4 linked regions of the Homo sapiens genome follow. The protein of the gene in region 1 interacts with the protein of each later gene in a biochemical or structural test. Each region holds a gene or a part of one and is shown on either strand. Other genes may lie near its edges. The genes, in order: CRKL, ARHGAP32, INPP5D and SASH1.

Region 1 (7,024 bases):
AGGAGTTTGAGACCAGCCTGGTCCAATATGGTGAAACCCCATCTCTACTAAAAATACAAAAATTAGCCGGGCATGGTGGTGGGCGCCTGTAATCGCAGCTACTCAGGAGACTGAGGCAGGAGAATCACTTGAACCCGGGAGGTGGAGACTGCAGTGAACCGAGATCATGCCACTGCACTTCAGCCTGGGCGACAGAGCGACACTGTCTCAAAAAAAAAAAAAAAAAATTCAATTCCAAGATGAGCTAAGTACTTCTCTAGTGAAACTGCTTTAACCACCATTCTTTTTTTTTTTTTTTTTTTTTTTTTGAGACGGAGTCTTGCTCTGTCACCCAAGCTGGAGTGCAGTGGTGCGATCTTGGCTCACTGCAATCTCTGCCTCCCAGGTTCAAGCCATTCTCCTGCCTCAGCCTCCCGAGTAGCTGGGACTATAGGCGCACGCCACCATGCCTGGCTAATTTTTTATATTTTAGTAGAGACAGGGTTTCACTGTGTTGGCCAGGCTGGTCTCGAACGCATGAGCTCAGGCAATCCACCTGCCTCCGCCTCCCAAGGTGCTAGGATTACAGGCGTGAGCCACCATGTCCAGCCAGTAACCACCATTCTTTATCACTGACCAGCATTTAATGCCCAGGTCCCCTCCCTTCTGTCCCTGGGCTTTCAGGCCATCACTAATGGCTCCTCCTCCTATGCTTGTGGCTGCCTCTCCTTCCGCAGCTTCTCTTTCTCTACTTATTCCTGTTCTGCCTCCTCATTCTGGGTGATCCCATCTAAGCTGCGATTCCCAAATCTATATGTATTCAGCCCTTACCTCTCTTCTCAATAACAAACCCATCAGATTGCTAAATACCACCTGGCTTCCAGCAGGTACCTCAAAGAAAGATTCTTCCTGTTGAAAAGAATCACGCACCCACCCTAATCCCTTTCTCTTGTCTCAAAGGCACCACTCAATCCTCTCTGAAGTCATCATACCTCTCCCCTCACCTTCTATGTGCCACTTTACATTCCTATGGCATTTGATCTTGGCTCAGCTTCTCAGGGTCCCTCTCCAGTAACAGAGAATTAGTCCTTCAGATCTTTCCCCACCCAGAGCAGTTTCTCAAAAGTAAAACTCATCAGTTCTCCTTTTAAAATCTGACAGTTCTCTTTTTAAAAACTTTAGATGGCTCCCATTGTTAAGCTCATTTACAAGGCTGAGGAGGCCCTTTACAAGTTGGCTTTATCTTTCCTTCCTAGGTTCCTGCCCATCATCTACATTAATTATAACTGTGTCTTTACCAGCAAGCACTGCCACCATCTCTTCTACCACCACCTCTTCTACCTCGTATACTTGTTCTCATCCTTAAAGAATCAGTTGAAGAGCATCTCCTCTTTCAAGCCTCTCCCCACCTCTTAGGTACAGTTGATTGCCTTTGCTTTTAAGCTGTCATGGCATTCTAATTTTTTCAATAGACCAAAGCTTCTCAAAGACAAAAATCAAAAACAAAAACATGGTTTACTTCCATTAGATTCCAAGAGTCTAGCAGTGAGCTTTGGTATATTGTAGGCCTCTATATATCAAAGAACTTCCCTTTCCTATTTCCCTCCTTTTTTGTTTCTGAAAGCACAAAAGCTCAGGTATTCAAATTACCTAACTCTGGTTTAATACTGTCACAAAACTGGTGTGACAGAATTCGAATACCGTTGAGTGTGCACCTTCAAAGCCTCTTCTCATCCTCTTCCACTGTTCTTGTCACGTTCATTCCAGGTGAGTTGCTATGTGCCTGGTGGCCCCACCCAACTTGTTATGATTTTAGCTCAGATTCAACTCAAGTTAATCTGAACTCCCAACTAATAGGCTGTGCCCCCTTTTACTTATCTGAAAGAATTAAAATAATGTTTTTTGTTTGTTTGTTTTTTGTTTTCCGAGACGAAGTCTCGCTCTGTTGACCAGACTGGAGTGCAGTGGCGCTGGCGCAATCTCGGCTCACTGTCATCTCTGCCTCCCAGGTTCAGTCTCGAACTCCCGACCTGCCAGACCTCCCAAAGTGCTGGGATTACAGTCGTGAGCCACCACGCCCGGCCCAGAATTAAAATATTTTAATCTTAAAGACCCTCAGAAATCTAGTCTAATCATTCAGATCAAAAGGAAAAATTTAGGTCACAATTCTGTGGATTTGAGTTTTAAAAGTCACAAATCGAATGGCTACTAGTACTTTCCATGGGAACACAACTCTTTTTTTTTTTTTTTTTTTGAGACGGAGTCTCGCTCTGTTGGCAGGCTGGAGTGCAGTGGTGTGATCTTGGCTCAGTGCAACCTCTGCCTCCCAGGTTCAAGCGATTCTCCTGTCTCAACCTCCGGAGTAGCTGGGACTACAGATGCATGCCACCACGCCCAGCTAGTTTTTGTATTTTTAGTAGAGACGGGGTTTCACTATGTTGGCCAGGATGGTCTTGATCTCCTGACCTCATGATCCGCCCGCCTAAGCCTCCCACAGTGCTGGGATTACAGGCGTGAGCCACCACATCCGGCTGGGAACACAACTCTTAATTGGACAAGATTCCATTCTCAGCATGACAGTGTTCTTGTTTTTTGTTTTTTTGGAGAGAGTCTCACTCTGTCGCCCAGGATGGAGTCCAGCTGCACGACCTCGACTCACTTTAACTTCCACCCCCCAGGTTCAAGTGATTCTCCTGCCTTTAGCCTCTTAGGCACACGCCGCCATGCCCAGCTAATTTTTTGTATTTTAGTAGAGACAGGGTTTCACCGTGTTGCCCAGGCTGGTCTCAAACTCCTGCACTCAGGCAATCCACCCACCTTGGCCTCCCAAAGTGCTGGGATTACAGGCGTGAGCCACTGCACCTGGCCATGTTCTTGTATTTTTCTCTGAATCAAATTCACATGATTTTAACTACTGGTCAGGAGAAACGCAAAGGGGTTTATTCACAGAGTTGAATTCTATGCTGATTAAAATTACTGGCAATCCTTTCCCCATTCCAAATTATGGAAGTCTAGATTTGAGTTCTTAAATAATTAGAACAGGGGATGTAAAGAGGAGGCACAACCATGCTTCTTGTTTCCTCCTGTCCCTTCAGGGATTGGCTTCTACTTCACAGGTGTGTGAGGCTCCTCTTCTGGGCTCTCAGGTTAGACTAAGCACCCTTTCTCAGTTCTCCCACAGCTGTTTCACCATGCATGGAGATTAAATATATTAAATATATACAACTTACATTCATTCATTCATTCATTTTTTGAGACAAGGTCTGGCTCTGTTGCCCAGGCTGAAGTGCAGTGGCATGATCATAGCTCACTGTAGCCTCGACCTCCCATGCTCAAGCAATCTTTCCACTTCAGCCTCCCAAGTAGCTGGGACTTAAAGGCGCATGACACCATGCTCAGCTAATTTTTTAATTTTTTGTGGGAATGGGGTCTCACTATCTTGCCAGGGCTGGTCTCAAACTCCTGGGATCTAGCGATCCTCCTGCCTTAACCTCCCGAAGTGCTGGGATTACAGGCACGAGCCACCGAGCACAGCCAACCTTTACATTTTTTTTTTTTTTAGTAGCCAGGCGCGGTGACTTACGCCTGTAATCCCAGCACTTTGGGAGGCCGAGGCGAGCAGATCCCCTGAGGTCAAGAGACAGAAAACCATCCTGCTCAACATGGTGAAACCCCATCTCTACTAAAAATACACAAATTAGCCAGGTGTGGTAGCGCGTGCGCCTGTAGTCCCAGCTACTTGGGAGGCTGAGGCAGGAGAATCACTTGAACCTAGGAGGTGGAGGTTGCAGTGAGCCAAGATTGCACCACCACACTCCAGCCTGGCAACAGAGCAAGACTCTGTCTCAAAAAAAAAAAAAAAAATGCCAGGCGCGGTGGCTCATAACTGTAATCCCAGCACTTTGGGAGGCCCAGGCGGGCGGTTCACGAGGTCAGGAGATCGAGACCATCCTGGCTAACACGGTGAAACCCCGTCTCTACTAAAAATACAAAAAGTTACCCGGGCATGGTGGCGGGCACCTGTAGTCCCAGCTAACTCAAGAGGCTGAGGCAGGAGAATGGCGTGAACCCAGGAGGCGGAGCTTGCAGTGAGCCAAGATCCCGCCACTGCACTCCAGCCTGGGCGACAGAACAAGACTCCGTCTCAAAAAAAAAAAAATTTTTTTTTTAGTAACCAGTAAGCTCCTCAGAAGCATGATAGGGCTGTCTGATTCAATGTTGGTTCCATATTACCAGGTACATGTAATGCTCAAAGTCTGCTGAGTACAGTACATTATTTTCTTGAAGGGCCAACTTCCTTTAGTTTTTAATGGTAAAATTTTATTTATTCTAATTTTTCTTCATAGCCTGAATTTATCTATCGACACAAGCTAGAAATGGAAAATGTCAAACAAAGCAAGCTACCTTCTGAAGCATTCTGTTGTTAAACTGGAAACAGCCCTTATTAAATAAAAATACACTAGAGCTAGGCCAGGCGCAGTGGCTCACACCTGTAATCCCAGCACTTTGGGAGGCCCAGGCAGGTGGATCACTTGAGGTCAAGAGTTCAAGACCAGCCTGGCCAACATGGTGAAACCCTGTCTCTACCAAAAATACAAAAATTAGCCAGGTGTGGCAGTGCATGCCTGTAATCCCAGCTACTAGGGAGGCTGAGGCAGGAGAATCTTAAACCCCAGAGGCGGAGGTGGCAGTGAGCCCAGATTATGCCACTTCACTACAGCCTGGGGGACAGAGGGAGACTTGGTCTCAAAAAAATAAATAAAATAAAATCCACCATAGGAATACCACAAATACAAAAAGCAGTTAAAGATAAAAACACAGAAGATAACAAAGTTACAAATAGACCAAATCATCCCTTCTTCCCTTTCCCTTCATCCCCACCCACCAGCAAATCAATTTTATCTCCAAAATAGGCATCTCCAAGTCACAGCTCCACTGTCACTATTAGTCACCATCATTTTGTAGCTGGATTACAATAACAGCCCCAGGTCACTCCTCTGCCTCAAATTCCTTCCTTGGAGCCCACAGCACTTTAAATAAAAACCCAATTCCTGACCCTGATCTTTATCTCCAAACTCATTTTATATGTCCCCCTTTCTCCTTTAAGAAACACACTCCCAGGCCGGAGAGGGTGGCTCACATCTGTAATCCCAGCACTTTGGGAGGCTGAGGCAGGTGGATCATGAGGTCAAGATATAGGGACCATCCTGGCCAACATGGTGAAACCTTGTCTCTACTAAAAATACAAAAATTAGCCGGACATGGTGGCGGGTGCCTGTAGTCCCATGCAGTCCCAGCTACTCAGGAGGCTGAGGTAGGAGAATCACTTGAACCTGGGAGGCAGAGGTTGCAGTGAGCCGAGATTGGGCCACTGCACTCTAGCCTGGCCACAGAGTGAGACGTCATCTACCAAAAAAAAAAAAAAAAAAAAAAAGCCGGGCGCAGTGGCTCACACTTGTAATTCCAGCACTTTGGGAGGCCGAGGCGGGCGGATCACTAGGTTAGGAGATCGAGACTATCCTGGCTAACATGGTGAAACCCCGTCTCCACTAAAAATACAAAAAATTTGCCCGGCATGGTTGCAGGCGCCTGTAGTCCCAGCTACTCGGGAGGCTGAGGCAGGAGAATGGTGTGAACCCAGGAGGCGGAGCTTGCAGTGAGCCGAGATCGCACACTCCAGCCTGGGCGACAGAGCAAGACTCCGTCTCAAGAAAAAAAAAAAGAAAAAAGAAAGAAAGAAAAGAAACACACTCCCAACACAATGGACTTTCTCACCTCAGGACATCTACATAAGCTTTTCCCTAAACTTGGAAGGCTCTTCTCCTCCTCTCAGGCCAAGCCTTGCCTAGGCTGGGTTCTTCTTTACCCTCAGGTCTTAGCTTCATGCTTTCTCTGACCACGCCACCCCAGGTAGGTCCCTCCTGTATATTGATCTTACTAGTACTTTATTTTTCTACTTTTCAGTCTGTCTTCTCCACTACAGTAGGAGTTCCACAGGAAGAAAGTATGTCTGTCACACATCTTTCCCAGTACCTACACTGGGTTACACTGGGTTATAATTCTCTTATAAACATTTGAATAAAAATATAAAATTAAAAATTATGAAGCATTCTAATGAAAAGGATAAGACTATAACAATGCAAGCCACCAGTCCTTAAATTTCGAGTAGGACATTATTGTTACAAATTTTAGCTATGCAAGATAAACCAAAATATTAGCCAAGAGGCATGAAACTCTGGCTTTAAAAGCTCAGTTTTGATGCCTGCAAAGTTAAGCCACTAAATGTACCCTGTTTGGGATGCGAAGAAGCATTACACTGAGTTTTCCGTTTGGCCCAGGCTCTAGTAGTCACTAGCTTTCTATAAAAGGCTAATAACATGTTAAACCTAAGCCATGAAAACCAGGCTTGGGAGTGGCAATTCGAAGATTCAGTATAACAAAGTAAACTCAGTCAGGATCTAATTCAACCAGCATGGTGATCTCCTTCAGAGATACCTAGGAAAATGAAAAACTAAATTAAAGCAACAGGCCTGAGGCAGAGGGCACAGAGAAGGAGAAACAAAGCTGAACGTGAGGGGTAGGGTCAGAGAAAGGCCCTATAATCTGTGAGGGGACTGGAACAACAGGTAGGATTTCAACAGATGGAGAGTGAGGTGTAGTTAAGGCAGTCAGTGAAGAGCCAACAGCTGGAGCAAAGGTGCAAAGGTACAAAGGTATGAGTAAGGAAGGATGGCTACCAGGGAATAAGTGAGCAGCCTAGTACAGCTGCAGTAAAGGAAGGACGAAAGAGGGCAAAGACAGAATTACATGCTTGTTCTCTAAGAAGATGCATGCATGTACGGAAAATCTGGAGGCGATTCTGTGGATAGAGAGAAGCGGCATACTTCTTTTCCTTCCTCTAGAAGGAGACTCAAGTCATTAACTTTTTCCTTTTTTTTTTTTGAGACAGAGTCTCACTCTGTCACCCGGGCTGTGCAGTGGCGCGATCTCGGCTCACTGCAACCTCCGCCTCCCGGGTTCGAGCGATTCTCCTGCCTCAGCCTCC
Region 2 (7,024 bases), on another chromosome or scaffold:
TGGCTGGTTTCCATGAGATAGTTCCCATTTGAGGTTGGAGTCTGCCATTACCTTGATGCTGGCTTTTCCCCAGGAAAGGAGTAGCTCCTAGATGACTATAGCTTAACTGTACCTGCTCCCTTTTCTTCCTAAAGTGTCTCGGTAGTTTATTCCAGTAACACAAAGAGATCAGGATCAAATGAGACAAAGTGGGCTTTACGGTTGTGGGTTGCTTTTTCTTATTTTTTTCCAACTCCATCACTGACTCATTGTGACTTTGGGCAAGTCATTTACCTACCCTCTGCCAATTATTCACAGTTACACAATGAAAATACTTCATTCTCAAAACATTCGTAAGACTGTCTGCCTTGCAGACTTTTTGGAAGTATAAGAGATTATAGTGCCTTGGGATTTTTTGTTACTTTCCTAGCATTCACCAGCAGTTTGTCCCATAGTCAGGTGCCTGTTTCAATGAGAGAATGTAGTATGCAGAATGCTAAGGTTTCTTCCTGAATTTCCTCATATTTTAAGAAAGTGCCACAGGTTGTTTTTCTTCTATATGGTCACCTTGAACTATTAATAGGACTTAAGATTTTAGACCTTAGTGGAGGATGCTGTGTTTACTGCTTCTCAAGGATAGCATGTTTTCAGTATGAGGATTATCTTTGGCCAGACTAAGGTGGAATCAAAGGTAGGAGAGAGGCAGTAGCTTCTGATTTGAATATTGCCTTTCCCTATGTTTGAAGCCCTAAAACTGCTAACTGTGTACAACTGTGAATTTCAAAAGTCTCCCCAGATGATAGAATTAACTCTTAATTTAACAAGATGTCCTTTGTGTTGAGACTGAGCTAGACTAATAGACCGGGTATGTATTTTTAAGCTCTACAGCATTACTTGACTAAACCTCTCTTTTGGTTTGTATATTAAAATTATGCCATAGGCAACCTCATCTCGCATTTAAAACCTCTCATAAATTAGAAAACTTTGAATGGTTCTCCAAAGATAATACTGGGTGTTGTACAAAATAGCAGCACAAGCCTTCTTTTCCTAGAAATGGGTACAGATTCATTGCAACCACATGGCTTGGGAAAGTTCAAGCTGCTACCCAACCAGCCTTAATTTGTGAGTTACAAATTTAATAGTACTTGATTCATAGAGGGAACAAAAAATAGACCCATAGTATTATCATCTTTCAATAGGTTCAAGGAGTAGTTCCAGTTCCAGAGAGGCCACCTGAACCTCGAGCCATGGATGACCCTGCGTCTGCCTTCATCAGTGACAGTGGTGCTGCTGCTGCTCAGTGTCCCATGGCTACAGCTGTCCAGCCAGGCCTGCCTGAGAAAGTGCGGGACGGTGCCCGGGTCCCGCTGCTGCACCTGCGCGCCGAGTCTGTCCCTGCGCATCCCTGTGGCTTTCCTGCACCACTGCCCCCCACCAGGATGATGGAGAGTAAGATGATTGCTGCCATACACTCCAGCAGTGCAGATGCCACCAGCAGTTCAAATTATCATTCCTTTGTCACTGCTTCATCCACCTCTGTGGACGATGCATTGCCTTTACCACTTCCTGTCCCACAACCTAAGCATGCTTCTCAGAAAACAGTTTACTCCTCCTTTGCTAGGCCCGATGTCACCACTGAACCCTTTGGTCCAGATAACTGTTTGCATTTCAATATGACTCCAAACTGCCAGTACCGTCCCCAGAGTGTACCTCCCCATCACAATAAATTGGAGCAGCACCAAGTGTATGGTGCCAGGTCAGAGCCACCAGCCTCCATGGGTCTTCGTTATAACACATATGTGGCCCCAGGAAGAAACGCATCTGGACACCACTCCAAGCCATGCAGCCGGGTCGAGTATGTGTCTTCTTTGAGCTCCTCTGTCAGGAATACCTGTTACCCCGAAGACATTCCACCGTACCCTACCATCCGGAGAGTGCAGTCTCTCCATGCTCCGCCGTCTTCCATGATTCGCTCTGTTCCCATTTCACGGACAGAAGTTCCCCCAGATGATGAGCCAGCCTACTGCCCAAGACCTCTGTACCAATATAAGCCATATCAGTCCTCCCAGGCCCGCTCAGATTATCATGTCACTCAGCTTCAGCCTTACTTTGAGAATGGCCGGGTCCACTACAGGTATAGCCCATATTCCAGTTCTTCTAGTTCCTATTACAGTCCAGATGGGGCCCTGTGTGATGTGGATGCCTATGGCACAGTCCAGTTGAGACCCCTTCACCGCCTTCCCAATCGAGACTTTGCTTTCTACAATCCTAGGCTGCAAGGAAAGAGCTTGTACAGTTATGCTGGTTTGGCTCCACGTCCCCGGGCCAACGTGACTGGCTATTTCTCTCCCAACGACCATAATGTAGTCAGCATGCCTCCGGCTGCTGATGTGAAGCACACCTACACCTCATGGGATCTTGAGGACATGGAAAAATACCGCATGCAGTCCATCCGGAGAGAGAGCCGTGCTCGGCAGAAGGTGAAAGGGCCTGTCATGTCCCAATATGATAACATGACCCCGGCGGTGCAGGACGACTTGGGTGGGATCTATGTCATCCATCTGCGTAGTAAATCAGATCCTGGGAAAACTGGACTTCTCTCAGTGGCAGAAGGAAAGGAGAGCCGCCATGCAGCCAAGGCCATCAGTCCCGAGGGAGAGGACCGCTTCTATAGGAGGCATCCCGAGGCAGAGATGGACAGAGCCCACCATCACGGAGGCCATGGTAGCACGCAGCCGGAGAAGCCATCCCTGCCTCAGAAGCAGAGCAGCCTGAGGAGCAGGAAGCTTCCTGACATGGGCTGCAGTCTTCCTGAGCACAGGGCACACCAAGAAGCAAGCCATAGGCAGTTCTGTGAGTCAAAGAATGGGCCCCCTTATCCCCAGGGAGCTGGCCAGTTAGATTATGGGTCCAAAGGGATTCCAGACACTTCTGAGCCAGTCAGCTACCACAACTCTGGAGTAAAATATGCTGCATCCGGGCAAGAATCTTTAAGACTGAACCACAAAGAGGTAAGGCTCTCCAAAGAGATGGAGCGACCCTGGGTTAGGCAGCCTTCTGCCCCAGAGAAACACTCCAGAGACTGCTACAAGGAGGAAGAACACCTCACTCAGTCAATCGTCCCACCCCCTAAACCAGAGAGGAGTCATAGCCTCAAACTCCATCATACCCAGAACGTGGAGAGGGACCCCAGTGTGCTGTACCAGTACCAACCACACGGCAAGCGCCAGAGCAGTGTGACTGTTGTGTCCCAGTATGATAACCTGGAAGATTACCACTCCCTGCCTCAGCACCAGCGAGGAGTCTTTGGAGGGGGCGGCATGGGGACGTATGTGCCCCCTGGCTTTCCCCATCCACAGAGCAGGACCTATGCTACAGCGTTGGGTCAAGGGGCCTTCCTGCCCGCAGAGTTGTCCTTGCAGCATCCTGAAACACAGATCCATGCAGAATGAGCCCTGCGAGCAATAGAGTTGAAGCAGCCTCTGCTGGACAGTGGACTGTTCTATTTTTTTCAATAACCAAAAAGATTAAACAAAAAATACTATAAAACCCCTGACCACATTTAAAAAATGATAATAAAAGTAAACAAATCAGCATCTTTTTCCCCTTCCCTGCTTCATTACCCCCTCTTCCATCTATAGACTTTGTCATTTTTGTCTTTAGAAAAGATCTGAAGGATGGTAAAGCCCCGTGCTGAAACCCAGTAGAGAAACCTGTCTCAGGACACACTTGCCATCTAGGGCTAGCTTGAAAGAGCCTGAGGACTGCCTTTAACTGAATTTGAATTCAGCATTGTCCTTTCTTCTTAGTATTTGCTGCATAATTGAGAGCAGTTCACATCGATTTCCTGGTAGGCGTCTGCATTCCCTGTTGTGTTCCTGCTTCTCCTTCAGTAGCTGCACAACTTGCGCAGATCGACACACTGTTGTCACTTCATTCTCCCCGTCTGAGAAGGATCTTGTGTTCAGTTAGAGTCGTGGAAAAATCCCTGATCCTTCAAGGTCAGTCAGACAGTTGGCAACATTATAATTAAAAATAAGAAATTAAGACTTTAAATTAAACATTTGGTAGAGTCATCATAAAACACCAGACCACTTAGACTCAGGCTGAACCATACTCTTTCTATTCTTATTTTTCATCCTTGTTCCTCACGGTTCAGTGAACAGGCTCATATCATGACAGAATGGACTTTTAAAAGTTAGTACTTAAGGAAACTTCTTTAGGTGGAAGAAAGTAAAGTTCTTATTGTCAGTGAACTTTATTAGCACCAGAAATCTCTATTGATGCTTTTAATGCATTGCCTGCCTTCAGGTTTTCTTCTTACCCCACCCCTCAATAAGATTTGGTGAATTGTAATTCTAGTAAAACATGTCATACCATTGGTTTTCCTAAATTATCAACTTTCTTTCATTAAAAAAAAAAAAAAAAAAAAAAGCCCAGCATGGTTTGACTGGATAGACACGCATAATTTATTATGAATATAAATTTCCATGTTTGTTTCTGTTCCTAAACCAGAGTACGAGGTCCCTGGGAATTTAAGTAGCTACGCATTATCTATTATTAGACTGCAAGTTCCTGCAATAACTGCTTAGTTCACAGCCCCGTTTCACCAGTGGAGTTCTGGGCAGTTATTGCTGTCCTAAGGCATTACTGTCGTTTGCTTACTCTATACTTGTGTGGTCACAGTCTTCTTGTAATTACCATCTACACCAGCATTTCAGGTATAGCTCTTTATAACTCTGGAGACATGTAAAACATGTTTAACACCCACGAGTTTTGAAAGTTGCATTCCTTATTAGAGTAGGAACTCTCTAGCCCAACTCCATTCTATGTTCTCAGCTCCCTCCACCCCCCAAAATACATCAGACTAGCAAGGCAGTCCTATGTTTACAAAACGAGTTTAGATTGTCATTTCATTCCATAACTCTTAATAATACTCAAGTTTTATACATTCACGTATTTTAAATGCTCGGTCTGTAGAAGACACTAGGAGAATTGCATTCCAATTACTGGATGGTTGCTGCTCTGGCTTTTTAGAACTTGAAATTAATTTTTATTTAGAGCAAAGGAGGAAATCTTTTAAGAGGCTAAAATCATGCTGCTATTATTGCTGTGAAATTGTATAAAGATTAGGATTCATGCCAGTTTTTATTTTAAAAAATAATGTGCATTTTAAGGGTTTATATTTAGAAAAAAATAAAATGTTTCAAGAACAACACATTGATATGTGGAAATATTCTATAAGGTTTTCTTTTGTTCCCTTAGAATTCATTGGAGGGATGCAGTAAAAACTGTAGTAGAAACCTTGAAACACCCATATGTGAAAAGGTCTGTGGAAATTGAGGCCTCTACATTAAAAGTGCAGAACCAACTGTTTTACAGTCAAAGTGCTAGGAAACCTGATAGGATACTTCCCTTTGGCACAAAAACACCCTGGGTGCTACATACAGGAGTATGACCTTTGGTGAATATGTGGCACTAATTTTTTTTACCTTAATCATATTCTTGTCAAGTAGGCAACCCATTGCCCCTTGGAGACCACACCAGCCCTGTAAGTTCTCACCAGCAGCATGGAGATTAGGAAGAGGGGCTGCTGTGACCAGGAGATACACACGGCTTTAAGTAACTGAGAGCCTAAAGAAAGTAACCCAGGGAGTCCGGTCCAGTTTTAATATTTGTGGATTTGTTGTCACACACATTGTTTAGTCCTGAAACTAAAACCTATTTTATAAATAGTAGGGTTAATTCCTCGAAACAATTTCTTTATTAATAAATGTCCTGTGGGTTTAGAAATATCAGGTAAATATTTGAATACAGAATGATGATTGCAATTACTGTTACAAGCGTGAAACACAAACTTCAGATCAAATCTAGAGTTGCTTCATTTAATGCATGCTAGCAACAGCCTTAACTTTGGATTCAGTTATTTGAAACACTTTTCCGGCATCTTTCCCTTTCTAATGTTGTGGGGTGGAAACCGGATGGCAAATCACTGTGAGCCGGATACCTCAGCACAGTCCACCTTGTGTGTGACTTCACAAATGGGGGACTTCACAAATGGGGTAACTGAATGTTATTACTTTCAAATTTTGACATGGAGCATTATGATCAAGGAAATGGAGCTGCCTTATACATTAAACCCGTGATTTAATCCTATTGACATTTTCATAGCCATGCCTCCAGATTTTATCTTTTTGGCAAAATTCTGATTCCACAGTTTGGTCTGATTGAAATAAATATTCCCTGGACGTCTGGCTAAAAATTTTGCTAACAATCCCAGAGGTGCCATTTTCTTATTAATAAATTTCATTGGAGCCTTATTTCTTACTATATTCAATTTCGTTTCAAACCTGCAAGTCCCTGGGATGGTCCCACGACTAGGGCCTGCACATTTCTTACAATGGCAAAGCATTTTTTAAAATTTAGGGTCAGGTTGAAAAATTCTAGGACTAATTCTGTAGAGAGGAGGGACTGTTAACTAACGTGAGTGGGGACGGAGGAGTAGGTTACCACATTTGGAGCAGTAATAGATGCAAACGATGTAAATTTGAAATTTGCCCCTTTAGTTAAAGAAGGAGCCTGCAAAGTCCATTTCTCTGTTTTCAGCCCTGTCAGTCACCCATTTAGGATGTTGGCAAAGTACTGCTTGAGCAGAATGTGTAAGAAAGTAATAATGAAAGCAAAAGTATGTCAGACAGTTACTTCTTCCACATGGTTAGAGGCATGTGATTTTCAGCACTGTGTGTTACAGAAATGTCAGGAATGGTGTATTATAACGTGTGCAAGATAATGTCAGTGTGCACAGAGGGTCTTTTTTCCTTATCTGATTAGTACTGTTAATGTTCAAAGAATAAAAATGGTTTTACAGTTTAGATTCTGAGATAGCAAAACCTGATTTTTCAACCATGACCTGCATGAGAGAAGCATCCTAGGAAGTCTTAGATCATACTTTTGAGTTTTTAATTTTAATTTATATAGTGTTTTTTTATGTCTTAATATTTTTGTGAACTGGTGTAAATTGTTAATGCATATAAGCTTGTGTATT
Region 3 (7,551 bases), on another chromosome or scaffold:
ATCAATAGATAGATAGGTAATAGTTAGACAGATGGCTAGACAGATGGATGGCCAGATAGATAGATAGATGGCTAGATAGATAGTGACTAGATAGATGGATAGGTAGATGGCTAGATAGATAGATGGATGGATGGTTAGCTAGATAGCTAGATAAATGGCTGGATAGATAGATGGATGGCTAGATACATAGATGACTAGATAGATAGTGGCTAGATGGATAGATAGATGGATGGCTAGATAGATGGCTAGATAGATAAATAGATGGATAGATAGATAGATGGCTAGATAGGTGGATAGATAGGTGGATGGCTAGAGAGATACACAGATGTATGGATAGATAGATAGATAGATAGATAGATAGATAGATAGATAGATAGATAGATATGGAATTGGCTCATAGGATGGTCAAGGCTGGCAAGTGCAAAGTCTGTAGAGTGGGCTGGCAGGCTGGAGACCCCGGGAAGAGTTGATGCTGCGGCTCGAGTCCATAGGCAATCTACTGGCAAATTTACTCTTTGGAGGAAGTCAGTCTTTTTCTATTAAGACCTTCAGCTTATTGGATGAGGCCTACACACAGGAATTGCTTTACTCAAAGTCTACTGATTTAAATGTTCATGTCATCTAAAAAATACTTTCAGAGAGACATCCAGAATAATGTTGACCAAATATCTGGGTCCTGAGGCCCAGCCAAGTTGACATAAAATTAACCATCACTGCTCCCTTTGCTTTTAGCACTCAGTGAGTGAACACTTTCAGCCCCTGCACCCCAAGCCATGAGTGATATCTATCTATCCACCCAGGCTGGGGGGAGTGGGAGCCCTGGGGCATAGTAAAGGGCTTCGATGAACACAGGAGGGGAAGGGAAGTACAGAGACAAATGCTTAGATATATTGTATATCTGTTAACATTGTATAGTAAATATATATTATATATATATAATGTGTGTGTATATATATACACACTATATATATGATGTAATGTGTGTGTGTATGTGTGTATATATATATATATATATACACACACACACACACATATATATATACAGTATATATTGACCTCTGCCTCCCCTCTCCTGGCTCAGTCCCTTCTCAGACCCTGAAATTCTTTCTGTTTCTTGTCCACGGTGGAAGGACCCCTGGACAAGAAGCTTGGTGTCTCCATTGTCCCTCTCTCCCAGCCTGCCCTGACCCTGTCCTGAGACTCAAACCTTCCTGTGACCCGCCCTCACTTAAGGTTGCCAAAGCAGAATTGCTCCAATGCCTTGGCCCTGCCATGTCAGCCCTCCTCTTCAACACTGAGGCCTGTCTGTTCTTCCCGGAGCTTCTAGAGTTGGCTGAGTGCCCATGACCAGGTGCCTGCCAGACCACCCTGATGCTTCTCACTGCCCAGCTTTCCCAGAAATTGTTCAAGTCCCCTGATGGGGCCTGGGGCTTGCCAGGGCTGGCAGTGCCTTTGGGCAGGTGCCCCAGTCTGGACCCAGGATCACATGAGTGAGTCTGACCCCACTTCTTCCCCTCAGCTGCTTTCCAAGCCTCTGCCCCATGGGTGAGGTTGACCAGATGCTCCAAGGAATGCATAGACTCACACTATGCAATCGCTCTGGGGCCCTATGGCTGGGTGTGACTCCTGGGCACAGCCTGGGGAGCAGGTTTCTCCTTTGAGTGGCCCCGAGCATTGAGGACAGCAAGGATAGTGGCAGGTGGTCTAGGCCCTCATCACCCCTGCCAGCAGCAGCTGGCAGTCCCTTATCCCTTCTGGAGGCTCCTGTCCACTATCAGGCAGCTGCCTCCTCCAACGTCTTTCGAGGACATTGCTCCACAGCACCGATACACCCACGGGCTCTTCCCATCAGCATCATCTCCCACCTCCCATCCATGTGGTGATGCTGAGCTCTCCACATTGATCCTGCCAAGCCAGATGCAGGCAGACATCCCTGGAGAGTGAGACTGCTCTTGTATGTGGAGGGCCAGGGTGCAATCATCATCAAATGGGATCTCAAGGTAGGAATGCAGTGATTATGGCCTAACACATTCAAGAGAATATGGCTGGAAGATGTGTGGTTCTACCTTTATGCTATAAAATTTGGAACAGTAATTTTTTTTTTTTTTTACTGTGTCGCTCTATCACCCAGGCTGGAGTGCAGTGGCACGATCTCGACTCACTGCAATCTTCGCCTCCTGGGTTCAAGTGATTATCCTGCTCAGCCTCCAAAGTAGCTGTAGCTGCGATTATAGGCACGTACCACACCCACCTGATTTTTTTTTTTTTTTTTTTTAGTAGAGACAGGGTTTCACCATGTTGGCCAGGCTGGTCTCAAACTCCTGACCTCAGGTGATCCACTCCCCTCAGCCTCCCAAAGTGCTGGGATTACAGGTGTTAGCCACTGTGCCTGGCCACTCTCTAGCCATTATTTGAAGTCTTCATTGATAAATCACTATCCCTCACATGAGTTTGTGAATTTTGTAATACGTTAAAATTATTTATATTGACTGGAGACCTACAAAAAAAAAAAATCCACCCACCAAAAGGGCAGCTCTGATCTAGATACTGGGATTTCCTGAATGTGGAGGGCAGAAGGGTGGGGGACAAGCCAGCTGACCATGCTGGATAGATCAGGCAATTGGGTGGAAAAGGAAGCAAAGTTGGGATGGGCCTTAAAAATGAGGGAAGAGTGCCCGTGTGGCGTGTGTGCCAGGGGATCTCACTCTGTGGAATGGCAAGGACCGTGGGAATAGAGGTGTGAGAGGTGGGGGGCTGGGGGTTTGGGGGAAGCTCTCTAAGTAGGGCAGTCTTGGCATGGTAGGGGTCTCTAGAGATGAGTGGGTGGAGGTGTAAAGGGACCAGTATTGCAAATGGATCCTCCTGGTGGCGTGGTCCAGGACTTCATGGATGTTGGTGGAGGCCAGCAGGGAAGTGAGAAGGGTGTGAAGGTACACAATGGGAGCATAGGAGATGACCCCATAAGGAGGGGGTGGACAGGTGCTGAGTGGAGGCGTGGGTGGGGAATGAGAGGCCTCCACACTGGGCTGCTGCAGAGGTGGCGTGCTGCGGAAGGGCCGGAGCATGGAGGCCAGTTCCCATCACCACTCTATCCCCACGCCTGGCTCCCAGCCTGGCCAGAGGTCCTTGACTGGGAGTGCTTTGTCTGCCCTACAGACTCGCCTGCCATGTGTGTTGCTCAGCGGGGAGGTGCTGGGGGCCCTGTTCTGGGACAACCATCAGTGTGACACATGTTGAGCCCCTGGGCACATGTGAGCTCTTTTACGAGCTACGTCCTTCAAGTTAGACAAGAAGAAACCAAGGCCGAGAGAGAGAAGAAACTTGACCAGGTTCCCACAGCTTGAATGTGGTGGCGCTGCCTGGCTGGTGCCCCTTCCTGGAGGGAGTCTGTTGTCATGTCCTGGAGGCCAAGGCCTGGATGTGGGATGGTGGGGGCACTCTTTGTGCAGCGGGTCAACACGTGCCCCTTCGGCCTTGGTGGGCCGGACCCAAGGACGGAAGGTGCCCAGGTCTGGGGGCTGAGGGATGGGTGTCCACCGCAGAGCCCTCAGAAATGACTGGTCCTGGATGGCGGTCCCTGGAGAGGCAGCTCCTCTTTGAGTGGTGGGCATATGTGGCCATGCCCAGTCTTGGAGGCGGTGCAGTCCGACCGGCCACCCCGACTGCTGAGACGCAGGACTCAGCACCCAGTGTTGTCCTTGGCCAGGCGGCCAGCCTGCCCTGTGGGGCTTTGGGGTTCTCCTCTCCGAGCTTGTTTCCCCAGCATCCTGGAGAAGCCCAGGGAAAAACCCAGCCTATGTTCCCGCTGTAAACGGCCCACATCCCCTCCAAGCTCCCTTTGTGTGTCTCCAAGCTGGACTGCAGGGATCAGAGCTGTGCTGCCCGTGCAGCACCCACCCGCCCCTGGGAATGAGGGTAATGGGGTCACAGAGCCATCACTTGGACCTTGGCGCCCTCGGCTGGTGGCAGCCAAGGTCTCCCAGCACCCAGGCCGCTGGGAGTCTCTAAAGGGGAGGGGTGGGGCTCGACTGTCCCCTCCCCCTCAAGTTTGCTCTGTCCTGGGCAGGCCGTAGTCCCAGTTGAGAAGCTGTGCCCCCTTGGGTGTTTTGGAGGTTCAGGGTGGGTGCTGAAAAGCCCTGAGGGAGAGCAGAAGGCTCGGGGGCCTGTCTAGGGCATGGCATCCCACGTGGGTGTCAGCACGGCCGCAGAAGAACCACTTCTCTGGCCCACCCATGCCTGCTAGGCCATGCTTCTTCAGAAGTGGCCACAACTCTCCTGACGTCTCCAGAGCCGGTCATTCCACCCAGGGGGACTTCAGCTGCCACTGGACACTTCAATTGTACGCTGCGACCAGTTGCCAGGAAGGAGAGGGCTGGCAAGAGAGCCGCGGCAGCCGTGGCAGGGTGTAGGGGACGGTGGACGGCCAGGGCCCCCCCCTCTCTCTCTTTCTCTCTCTCTCTCTTGCTTGGTTTCTGTAATGAGGAAGTTCTCCGCAGCTCAGTTTCCTTTCCCTCACTGAGCGCCTGAAACAGGAAGTCAGTCAGTTAAGCTGGTGGCAGCAGCCGAGGCCACCAAGAGGCAACGGGCGGCAGGTTGCAGTGGAGGGGCCTCCGCTCCCCTCGGTGGTGTGTGGGTCCTGGGGGTGCCTGCCGGCCCGGCCGAGGAGGCCCACGCCCACCATGGTCCCCTGCTGGAACCATGGCAACATCACCCGCTCCAAGGCGGAGGAGCTGCTTTCCAGGACAGGCAAGGACGGGAGCTTCCTCGTGCGTGCCAGCGAGTCCATCTCCCGGGCATACGCGCTCTGCGTGCTGTGAGTACAACCTGCTCCCTCCCCGGGCACAGATATGACAGAGGGGCTTAGAGGGGGCCCAGCTTTGAGATGGGTTGTTCTTATGTCACAGGACAGAGTGATCTGACATGCACACTTCCCCGCCACCCTGTCATGGACCTTGTCCTTGGAGTTCAGAGAGCTGGTCTCATGGCAGGTTTTGCAGCCTTGGAGCTGTCAGAACCACTCTGAGGCCTGATGTTACACCCCAGCTTCCCATGAGCTGTATGGACCTTGTGGCTTCCTTGGAGTCTGGGGACCGAGAGAAGGGAGTTTGGGCTTTTGGAGCCAGGAGGAAGCTCAGGGCTCTGTGGAGGTGGGTGTGTTAGAGATCAGCTCAAAGATGCCCAGCTCAGAAACCCTGAGAAGAGCAAAGGTGGCAAGGGGGACCCTTCCTGGAGCACCCAGGCTTCGGGCCCCTGGAGGAAGCTGTTGTTTGGCGAGCCAAGAATATGGGGTGAGTTTAATCAAGAAAGGACTTTCCATTCAGTCAGAAGCTGCTTTCAGGGGCCTGAGAGCAGAGGAAGTCACCATTACCACCAGCGAGCAGCCTCTTCTCTCTCCTGAGCACTTGGCTGTGACCGCTGCCCACCCCCCACCCCCTCAATTTGGGTCTCTGTCACCATCAACTCCTCCCACTGCCCGGTTGGGGATGTTACTGAATGTACCAGCTGTGCTAACAATGGAGGAACCAGCCACTTGCTGAAGGTTCCTTTCTAAAACCCCCTTCCTGTCCAGCGTCTGAAGGAGGCCCTTGCCCTGCAGCTCTCGGTCTAATCATAGGGGGGCCTTGCCCTGCAGCTCTTGGTCTAATCATTTTGCCGGGGCCTCAGGCAGTGCCGGAGTGTAGTCAGGGAAATGTGTGTCCACCTGAACATCTCAAGTAGCATCCCTGGGCTGGCAGAAATGTTCCCCCGAGCAGCCAGGGCCTTGTGCTTCTCCAGGCAGGAGGGGAATTGGGTGATGAACCCAGACCTGTTTTGAATACTGACTCACAGCTGGGACCTGTCGTGCTAAGCATTTGTTAGCCCATTTCATCCTCACCACAACCTAAAGTGAAGGTCCTGTTAAAAGCCCCACTTTGCAGATGAGAAATCTGAGGCCCTGGCAGGTTAAGTGAGTGACAACAGTCAAAGCCACGGCCATCTGCCCCCAGAGGCTGCAGCTGAGACCAGCAGCCTGTGGCCCAACCTCTCCTGCTCCCAGTCCAGCGGGGCAGGCATGTAGCCTTGCAGGGCTGGAGAAAGAAGCAAGGGGAGCCACAGTGTTTACAGGGTCAGCTGGGGCACTGGAAACCAAGCCAGGCTCGCAGCTGGTCGCTGGCCTGTGCTGACAGTCTGCAGCCCCACCTCCAAAGACTGGTTTCCTGTGTCCCCTCTCTCATGCCTCAGGGGAAGGAACGCAGGCCCAGGCTGCCTGGACTTCCCCAGTGGGGACCTGCTGCTGCCGGGGCCTTAGAAGGAGCAGGAAGATTCTCTTAGGCCTCTCACAAGCCCAGTCTGACTCCACCTGGCCCATGTGGGTTACTTGGATTTCTCTCCTGGCCCAGTGGGATCTTGTCCTGGCTGTTTGGTGTTGGCTGAGCCGAGGGCTTCCAGGGCCCCATCTCATTAACCTTCAACACAGCCCTTTGACCAGGGCTTGCTTTGTGGTTGCTCAGGTTACAGACATGGGGCGTGGGTCTCTCTGACTCCGAGCCGTGAGCATCTTAACGTCTAGGATTAGCCTGAGCCAGAGTCAGAGCTGGAGAGGCCTTGGAGAAGCTCTGGTGCAACAGCCCTGGCTTTTCAGGAGGTAGACAGAGGGCAGAGAGCCTGAGGCCTTTGTCCACCATGCTGGCTGGGGTCAAAACTGCTGGGATCCAGGCCAGTTCTCGTATTCCTTCCTCTACCTCTTCTCTCTGAACCCTTGTCTGCACTGAGTTCTCTCAGAGTCATGATGGGTGTGCAGTGTCTGCTCCTTAGAGAGGGACCTGTGGTGCCTACAGATGTCCACTATCCTCTCAGCCGAAGCCTCGTCAGCCTCCTATCCTGAGGCTGCTGGGCTGCAAACACCAGGAGTCCCACCCCTTGGCCAGACAAACCCTGGGCTCAGTGTTTCCCTTTCTCCTCTGCTCAGGGTGGGAAGCTTCCCTTCCTGCAGGGTCAGGCTCCACTGTAGGCCGTGGGTTGCTATGGACCTGCAGACTTTCCATACATCTGCAGGCTTCATATGGCTGCCACCCTGGATTTTGCCAATTACGGAGATTTTAAAACTAAAAACTAATTAAATGAATGATAACAAACTGTCATCTTCCAACACCTCATTTCTTGAAAGAAAGCAGCCTTTGACACCAAAAGAGGCAGGAAGGGCATTAAAAAAAAAAAAGCCAGTCATTTAAAGCAAAGAGATTGAACTTCTTGAAAAACAAACCCTACCACCCTTAGTTTTCTGTGTTCCCTGCAGAGTCGCCGTGGCCTGACGGAGACGGCAGAGGCAGACAGTCCCAGGCTGAGGGGTGTGCAGGGCAGCCGGGTTTTCTGCGGCTGCAGAAGTAGCAGGCTTTGCCCCCCTAGCCCTGGAAGCCTGGAGCCACCCTGCTCTAGAAGTGACTGCAGAAGGAAGCCACACACTCACCCTCCTGCCCTAGCAAAGTCCATGGGAAAAGTATACCTGCCCCATGGCCCCTCAGATCACCCAGGTGCCCTGACCTCATCCTGCCTGGGCCCCAGCAGCACTCC
Region 4 (7,024 bases), on another chromosome or scaffold:
GTACAGACAAGAGAGACAGACATGTAAAGAAATGGTTATTCTTCAGTGCACTAAGCGTTGTAAATTTGAATACAAAGGAAGGATTTTATTTTCTAAACTATGCCTTGCTACAAAATGGATGTTACCTGAATCAAACCTAAAGCTTTTTTTTTTTGGGGGGGGGGGTGGCAGTAGACTTGTCGATCATAGCATAAGTTGTTCTAGAAGCACATAGCCAGTCTAAGAAATAAACTCAAAGTTCTTCCTGGGTACCAGGCTTTGGTAATAATGTTTCAGAGAGGGGTGTTTTCCCTCATTTGCCTTATCTGTAGCCATGAAGGAAGGTATCATAGAATTGATTTTTCCCCCCTGGATCTATAATTTCATTGCTAGAGAAATGACTGTTTCTGTCTAAATTGCATGGGTGGAGGGAGTAAAGATAGTTGGAGAGCTGGGCCTCAAGGTAATTATGACCATTCAATTTTCAAGACACTCTCCTCCAGCACCTGTATAGCACTCATTTTGTAGCCTGTTGAAGTTCCTGTGTATGAGCTGGTTGTCTGCTTGAAATATGTAGGTAATGCACTTTATCTACCAAATAAAAACAGCAGGAAAAGCAGACATTTTTGCTCAGCTGCTGCTCTCTGGTGGGCACAGTGAGCTAAAACCAAGCATCGCCCCTATGCGAATGACCGAACGTCACCAGCCTGCCACCCACCTCACTTGATTCAAACAAAGCCTGCACAGCAGCTTCAGTTGATTACAGTGGTTCTCACGGGGAAGGGGTGAGAGGCTATCATTTTGCTCCCCCATGGACTCCAGGGCAATGTCTTTCAATGGTCAGACTGGGTTGAGGTGAAGTGGAGTGGATATTGCTGGCATCTAGGGCAGCAGTGCCCAATCTTTTTGCACCAGGGACTGGTTTCGTGGAAGGCAATTTTTCCACGGAGCTGGTGTAGGTGGTGGTTTCAGGATGATTCACATGCATTACATTTATTGTTCACTTCATTTCTATTGTTATTACATTGTAATATATAATGAAATAATTATACAACTCACCATAATGTAGAATCAGTGGGAGCCCTGAGCTTGTTTTCCTGCAACTAGATGATCCCATCTGGGGATGATGGGAGACAGTGACAGATCATCAGGCATTAGATTCTCATAAACAGCGTGCAACCTAGATGCCTCGTGTGCACAATTCACAATAGGATTCGTGCTCCTACGAGAATCTAATACCGCCGCTGATCTGACAGGAGGTGGAGCTCAGACAGTAATGCGGGTAATGGAGAGTGGCTGTGAAAACAGATGAAGCTTGGCCTGCTCACCCGCCACTCACCTCCTGCTGTACGGCCCACTTCTTAACAGGCCACAGACGGGTTCTGGTCCGTGGCCCGGGAGTTGGAGAATGCTGATCTAGAGGATAGAGGCCAGGGACGCTGCCAAACATCTTAGCATGCACAGGACGGTCTGCACAGCAAAGAGCTGTCCATCAAAATGATCAGTGCTCAGGCTGAGAAACCGTGGCTTGTTAGACCTGCAGGAGATAGATGTCTGGACTGCCTTCAGCATGTCTTATCCATGATTTTTTTTCTTTATTCTTTTCATTCTCTTGTCCTTGTGGGTGACGGAGTGATAGTGATTCTATATTTCTTCCCAGCAATGAAGCAGTCAGCATGCTAGTGAGAGCATGCTACTAATTGAAAGCATTTTATTAAGTTTGCTTTTCCCCAAGATAGATTGAAACAGCCACTAAAACTCTTAAGCTTTACGTTCACAGAGGTTTTCTGCTTTATGAATCAGAAGCATAGAATTTTAATGTCATTTTGGCATTTTTCAATAATTTTACTACCATATAGCAATCTTATGTGCTTAGTTCTGTTTTTTTAAAGCAGCCATTTCACATAAGTTAAGGAATAAAAGAAACAACTGATCATTATAAATTTTCTGTAAAGCAAAAATAATGGAAGGTTTTATGTGGTTGTTTTTTTTTTGTTTTTGTTTTTGTTTTGAGACGGAGTGTCACTCTGTCACCCAGGCTGGAGTGCAATGGTGTGGCCTCGGCTTACTGCAACCTCTGCCTCCTGGGTTCAAGCGATTCTCCCACCTCAGCCTCTTGAGTAGCTGGGACTACAGGCACGTGCCACCATACCCGGCTAATTATTGTATTTTTAGTAGAGATGGGGTTTCACTACGTTGGCCAGGCTGGTCTCGAACTCCTGACCTCGTGAGCCACCCACCTCAGCCTCCCAGAGTGCTGGGATTACAGGCATGAGCCACTGCGCCCACCTTGTGTGTTTTTTTAAAAAAACTTTTTAGTAAATATACCAACCATTATGGTAGGGATATTTGTTTTCTCCGTTGCTGCTATATGCCCAATACCTGGATTAGTGCCTGTTATTGTAGGTAATTCATAAACATGTGATGAATAAATTAATAATTTTTTAAAGCATTTGAAAATATATCAGAGACCCACATTTACTATTGCTGTTTTTCAAACTGCGTGCTTTTTTCAGAAGCATTACAGAAGATTTTAATGGGAAAAAAGTTACTTATTTTATGACGCAGAAAGGAGGAATGAATTTTTTTTTTTTAAGGAATTCATACTTTGGAGCTTCAGTAACTTCCTAATAATGTCAGCTCTAGTTTTCTTTGTTGTTTTTGAGGTCGCTTGCTCACTTTCCTCACATTGAAAGCACTAATGTGTGTTGGATCAGAAGCTGCTGTTGCTGATGTCCTCAGATGTTTGCAGGACCTGCGGAGCTGTGTTAAGGCCCTTCTGATGACTCGGCAGCATGCAAATAGCAGGTTTCATTTTAGCTGGTTTTGAGCCCGTGTGGCTGCGGCCATATGTAATATGCCAGAGACTTTTCTATTTTGGCAAGTAAACAATTCTCACTGCAAACTTTCTGAAGTGTGATATCGTCTATTGATGTAGCACCACGAATCAAATAAGCATGCTATACTCAAATGTGCAAATGAGGAGCCGCTGAGAGGATAATACTTAGCTACTCAAAATGCAGGAAGTACTGCTGAGTCACTCCCATCAGGATTCTGGTGTGAAAGAGATTTCCCAGCTTTTTACTGACAACACTTTAGAAAAGTGAAAGAAGCTAAAACTTTAGAGTAACATATGGAAATTTTATGGTAGACTGGAAAATAGTATGTTTGCTGTATATGTGGGTTTTAAATTCATGTTTCCTTATCCAATGCCAATAATTTGTACAAATAGAAATATAAGAATCTAGCCAATTTTTTTTTTCCAGGAATACACTTTTTTAAAAGTGCATGTTTCCTATCCAAGTAGATTAAATATCCTCTGACTACACTTCCAGGTATTCTAGTAATCATGGATTGTACTTGATCTACATTTGAAGTCCAGCCTTGCTACTGGGCTTTTGCGTATGCTGAGTCTCTAAACCTTTAAGTATTTTGTCTGTGTGGTAGACAGATTTTTTTTTTCTTGGAGATTCCAAGAATATCTATTCGAGAATGAGAAATAGTATTTGAGTGCTTAATAAATAGTGACATTGGCCACGACTTTAAAAGTAAGCGAGGATGTAAGTTTAAGAGGAGGAGAATATTGGTTATAGAATCAAATATAGGTATAGATTGATTTGATTGATTTCGTTGAAGGCCAAGTCGCTGAGAATTACAAAACAACACCTGTCCACTCTGATGAACTTCTTCATTTTGTTGAAACCCATGGCAGGACTCGGGCCTTGATGGAATGCCTGGCTCCCCTCCGCCTTCACAGCCCGACCCCGAACACTTGGACAAGCCCAAGCTCAAGGCCGGGGGTTCTGTAGAAAGTCTTCGCAGTTCTCTCAGTGGGCAGAGCTCCATGAGTAAGTCGAGTTTGTCATTGTAGATTATTTTCTTTGGAGTTAATATCTGACATATACTGAGCACTAGGTTCAGGCAATTTCAAGGTGAATAAGACCAAGTCCTGCCCTTCAGGTGCTATTAGAGAATCAGACCAATAAACTCTCTGGACTCAGAGTCGTGTTTGTTTATTAGTAGACATGCAGCAGCAGCAGCCCAAAACAGGAGGTGATGAATTTTGATCGGAGACAATAGGGAAAGCATCTCAGAGGAAGGATCTAGAGAGCAGGGGGAATAAGCCAGGGAGACAAGCACATGAAGATGACCAGCAAAATAAAGGGAGTGGGGAAGGGAGGGGAATTTTATATGTGACTGATAAATTCGGGCCAATGGTAGTTGGAGTTGGCTGAATGGTATGAAGGAAAAGATCAACTTTATTTTATTTTTATTTTTATTTTTGAGATGGAGTCTCACTGTCTCCCAGGCTGGAGTGCAGTGTTGTGATCTCAGCTCACTGCAACCTTCACCTCCCTGGCTCAAGGGATCCTCCTGCCTCAGCCTTCCGCATAGCTGTACTACAGGGTCATGCCACCACACCCGGCTAATTTTGTTGTAGAGACGGGGTTTTGCCATGTAGCCCAGGCTGGTGGAACTCCTGGACTCAAGCGATCTGCCCACCTCGGCCTCCTAAAGTGCTGGGATTATAGGCGTGAGCCACCGTGCCCCGAGATCAAGTTTAAACCTACCACTTTAAGCTCTTTCTTACCCTTTTGGGCAAATGACATGACTGCTCTGAATTTGTTTCCTCATCTGTAAAATGGTTAGAGAGAGTGTGCATTACCACTGAGAGGTCACGAATGTTAAGAGCAGAGTCTGGTGCCTGGCCCTGCAGTGTCCTCCACGCGGGATCCTCCGTGCCACATGGATTCCCAGGTCATGAGGGTAACTTGCTGTGAGTCCCCTGTCCACTGAGGAGCTGAGGGATAGCACTCGGAGAATTCATAACTGGGCCCTGCCCTGGTCCTGACAGAGGGTTGTGGCTCAAGGCTTCCTTTCTCTGGGCCTTCATTTCCTAATCTGCCATACCTTCAATACCTTTCTGCTTTGCTGGGTGGGAAATCTGGATCTACCCGTGTTCTTCCTATGTTTCCTGTACAGGCGGTCAAACAGTGAGCACCACTGATTCCTCAACCAGCAACCGGGAAAGCGTCAAGTCGGAAGATGGGGATGACGAAGAGCCGCCTTACCGAGGCCCGTTCTGCGGGCGTGCCAGGGTGCACACCGACTTCACCCCCAGTCCCTATGACACAGACTCACTCAAGCTCAAGGTATCTCTCTCCCTGGCCTCAGAGCAGCTAACTGGGCTCTTCCATTTCTCTAGGAGGCTTTCTTTCCTCCTCACTGTTGAATGCTGGGCTACTATGGTACAGACTGGACAGTATCTTGGCTACCTCGATCACTGGTCTCCTCTGTAGTGAAAAACAGAACAAGAACCAGCCAGCCCTCGAGGCAGAGGGAGGGTCTCGTGTTAATCCCTGGGTTAGCATCACTTCACCCCTCTGACCTCAGCTTCCCTCTAGAATTCCTGTTGCACACCCTCCCTCTCCCCACCTGGCTCCTGCTCCACACACCTGGTTTCTGTGTTTTCTCCATCTGAAGAAAGATTTCTGCCTTCTGTGTGCTCAGAGGTACCTTTATGGGACAGATGGGGTTCCACAAAGTGTGTGCAGCCATGACAGGGCCGGGATTGCCACTGGTTAGGACAGGTGGGAAGTGCCTCCTCTAAGAAGTGGGAGCCCTCTGAGGAGGGAAGGCGTTCAGAGTGCCGGGCGGGCAGCCTGGCTGAGAGCACCAGGGGTACCCCAGGCACCCCTGGTTCTGCAGGGCAGGAGGGTGGAGGGGCTGTGACCGGGGGCCTGCGTGGAATTCCGTACAGTCAGAGACACCTGTCTGGCCTCTGCGGAGCTCACAGTCACATCCTATGCAGGTCACTCAGAGGGGTGACTTGTGGGACCCCGATTCTGGCCTTTGTGGCATCTTCACTTCTGCATGACCTGTGTATCTGACAGATTCTTGATTTGTACGTTCATGGAATGTACCTAATGGAAAGATCTTTGCTCCCTGGGCCACAGAAAGGAGATATCATCGATATAATCAGCAAGCCACCCATGGGGACCTGGATGGGCCTGCTGAACAACAAAGTCGGCACGTTCAAGTTCATCTACGTGGACGTGCTCAGTGAAGACGAGGAGAAACCCAAACGCCCCACCAGGAGGCGTCGGAAAGGACGACCACCCCAGCCCAAGTCTGTGGAGGATCTCCTGGATCGGATTAACCTAAAAGTCAGTCGCTTCTGATTCTTGTCACACGCTACTACCTCACTGCCTTTTTCTCTCCTACACTAAGCAAGTGAGGGCATTTTTAGGGTAGGGTTGGGGCTGATCTGTGTGGTCCAATAAGGGCAGCTCGTTACTATGATGAGCATTCATTATTCTACAGAAAGAGTTAGTTAGTTACCAGTTTTCCAACACTGCCCTTGACCTCAGCTGTGGGTGATAGCGTAAGCCCCGGGTCAAACCTTGCTGCTGGAAGAGCTGTAGGCAGAAACTCCTGGCACCTTGATCGCAGCTAGCTCCACAGGGGCCACAAGGAAACTCTGCGCCCACCTCTCTCCCACCATCACTCCAGGCATCTACTAGCATGAGTCTGCAATGAGAGATTATGTTTCCTCTTTGCAAAACTCTTGATCCTGAGGACTTAAAAGCTGGATTTTAATAGCTCTGTAAGTGGAGGAGGAGTCTCCTCTGTTGTGGGCTCTGTGGAGGTAAAGGAATTAGCTCTTATCAAGAGTACAATTATAGTGCAAGCCAGCAGAATCCATCACAGCCTGCAATGTACATCTTCCTAACCCATGATTAATAAAACACCCTGCTTGCCTACTAAGCCAGAGGGCTGGGATGTACAGGATCCATTGCAAATGATACTTACTAATCTTTTGATTAGCCTGAAGGTGACTATGGGAACAGTGTGTGGGTTGCAGGCTAGTTGTTGGCGGTGTTATCATGTGTCTGGGCTGGCTGACACCCTTCTGTCTTCCTTCTCCCTCTCACAGGAGCACATGCCCACTTTCCTGTTCAATGGATATGAAGATTTGGACACCTTTAAGCTGCTGGAGGAGGAAGACTTGGATGAGTTAAATATCAGGGACCCGGAACACAGA

Evidence for each region.
Region 2: the proteins of CRKL (region 1) and ARHGAP32 form a complex in vitro, tested with the Homo sapiens proteins (one study listed by BioGRID).
Region 3: the proteins of CRKL (region 1) and INPP5D form a complex in vitro, tested with the Homo sapiens proteins (one study listed by BioGRID).
Region 4: the proteins of CRKL (region 1) and SASH1 interact in a test that uses a peptide from one of them, tested with the Homo sapiens proteins (one study listed by BioGRID).

What each region holds. Positions count from the first base shown.
Region 1 is NC_000022.11:20,920,396-20,927,419, reverse strand, and holds part of CRKL (crk-like protein), read right to left. Parts: intron 1-7,024. UniProt on the Homo sapiens protein: May mediate the transduction of intracellular signals.
Region 2 is NC_000011.10:128,965,314-128,972,337, reverse strand, and holds part of ARHGAP32 (rho GTPase-activating protein 32), read left to right. Parts: intron 1-1,178; coding exon 1,179-3,431; 3' UTR 3,432-7,024. UniProt on the Homo sapiens protein: GTPase-activating protein (GAP) promoting GTP hydrolysis on RHOA, CDC42 and RAC1 small GTPases. May be involved in the differentiation of neuronal cells during the formation of neurite extensions.
Region 3 is NC_000002.12:233,055,800-233,063,350, forward strand, and holds the start of INPP5D (phosphatidylinositol 3,4,5-trisphosphate 5-phosphatase 1), read left to right. Parts: upstream 1-4,542; 5' UTR 4,543-4,679; coding exon 4,680-4,813; intron 4,814-7,551. UniProt on the Homo sapiens protein: Phosphatidylinositol (PtdIns) phosphatase that specifically hydrolyzes the 5-phosphate of phosphatidylinositol-3,4,5-trisphosphate (PtdIns(3,4,5)P3) to produce PtdIns(3,4)P2, thereby negatively regulating the PI3K (phosphoinositide 3-kinase) pathways.
Region 4 is NC_000006.12:148,527,835-148,534,858, forward strand, and holds part of SASH1 (SAM and SH3 domain-containing protein 1), read left to right. Parts: intron 1-3,691; coding exon 3,692-3,827; intron 3,828-4,962; coding exon 4,963-5,132; intron 5,133-5,936; coding exon 5,937-6,146; intron 6,147-6,916; coding exon 6,917-7,024. UniProt on the Homo sapiens protein: Is a positive regulator of NF-kappa-B signaling downstream of TLR4 activation. It acts as a scaffold molecule to assemble a molecular complex that includes TRAF6, MAP3K7, CHUK and IKBKB, thereby facilitating NF-kappa-B signaling activation.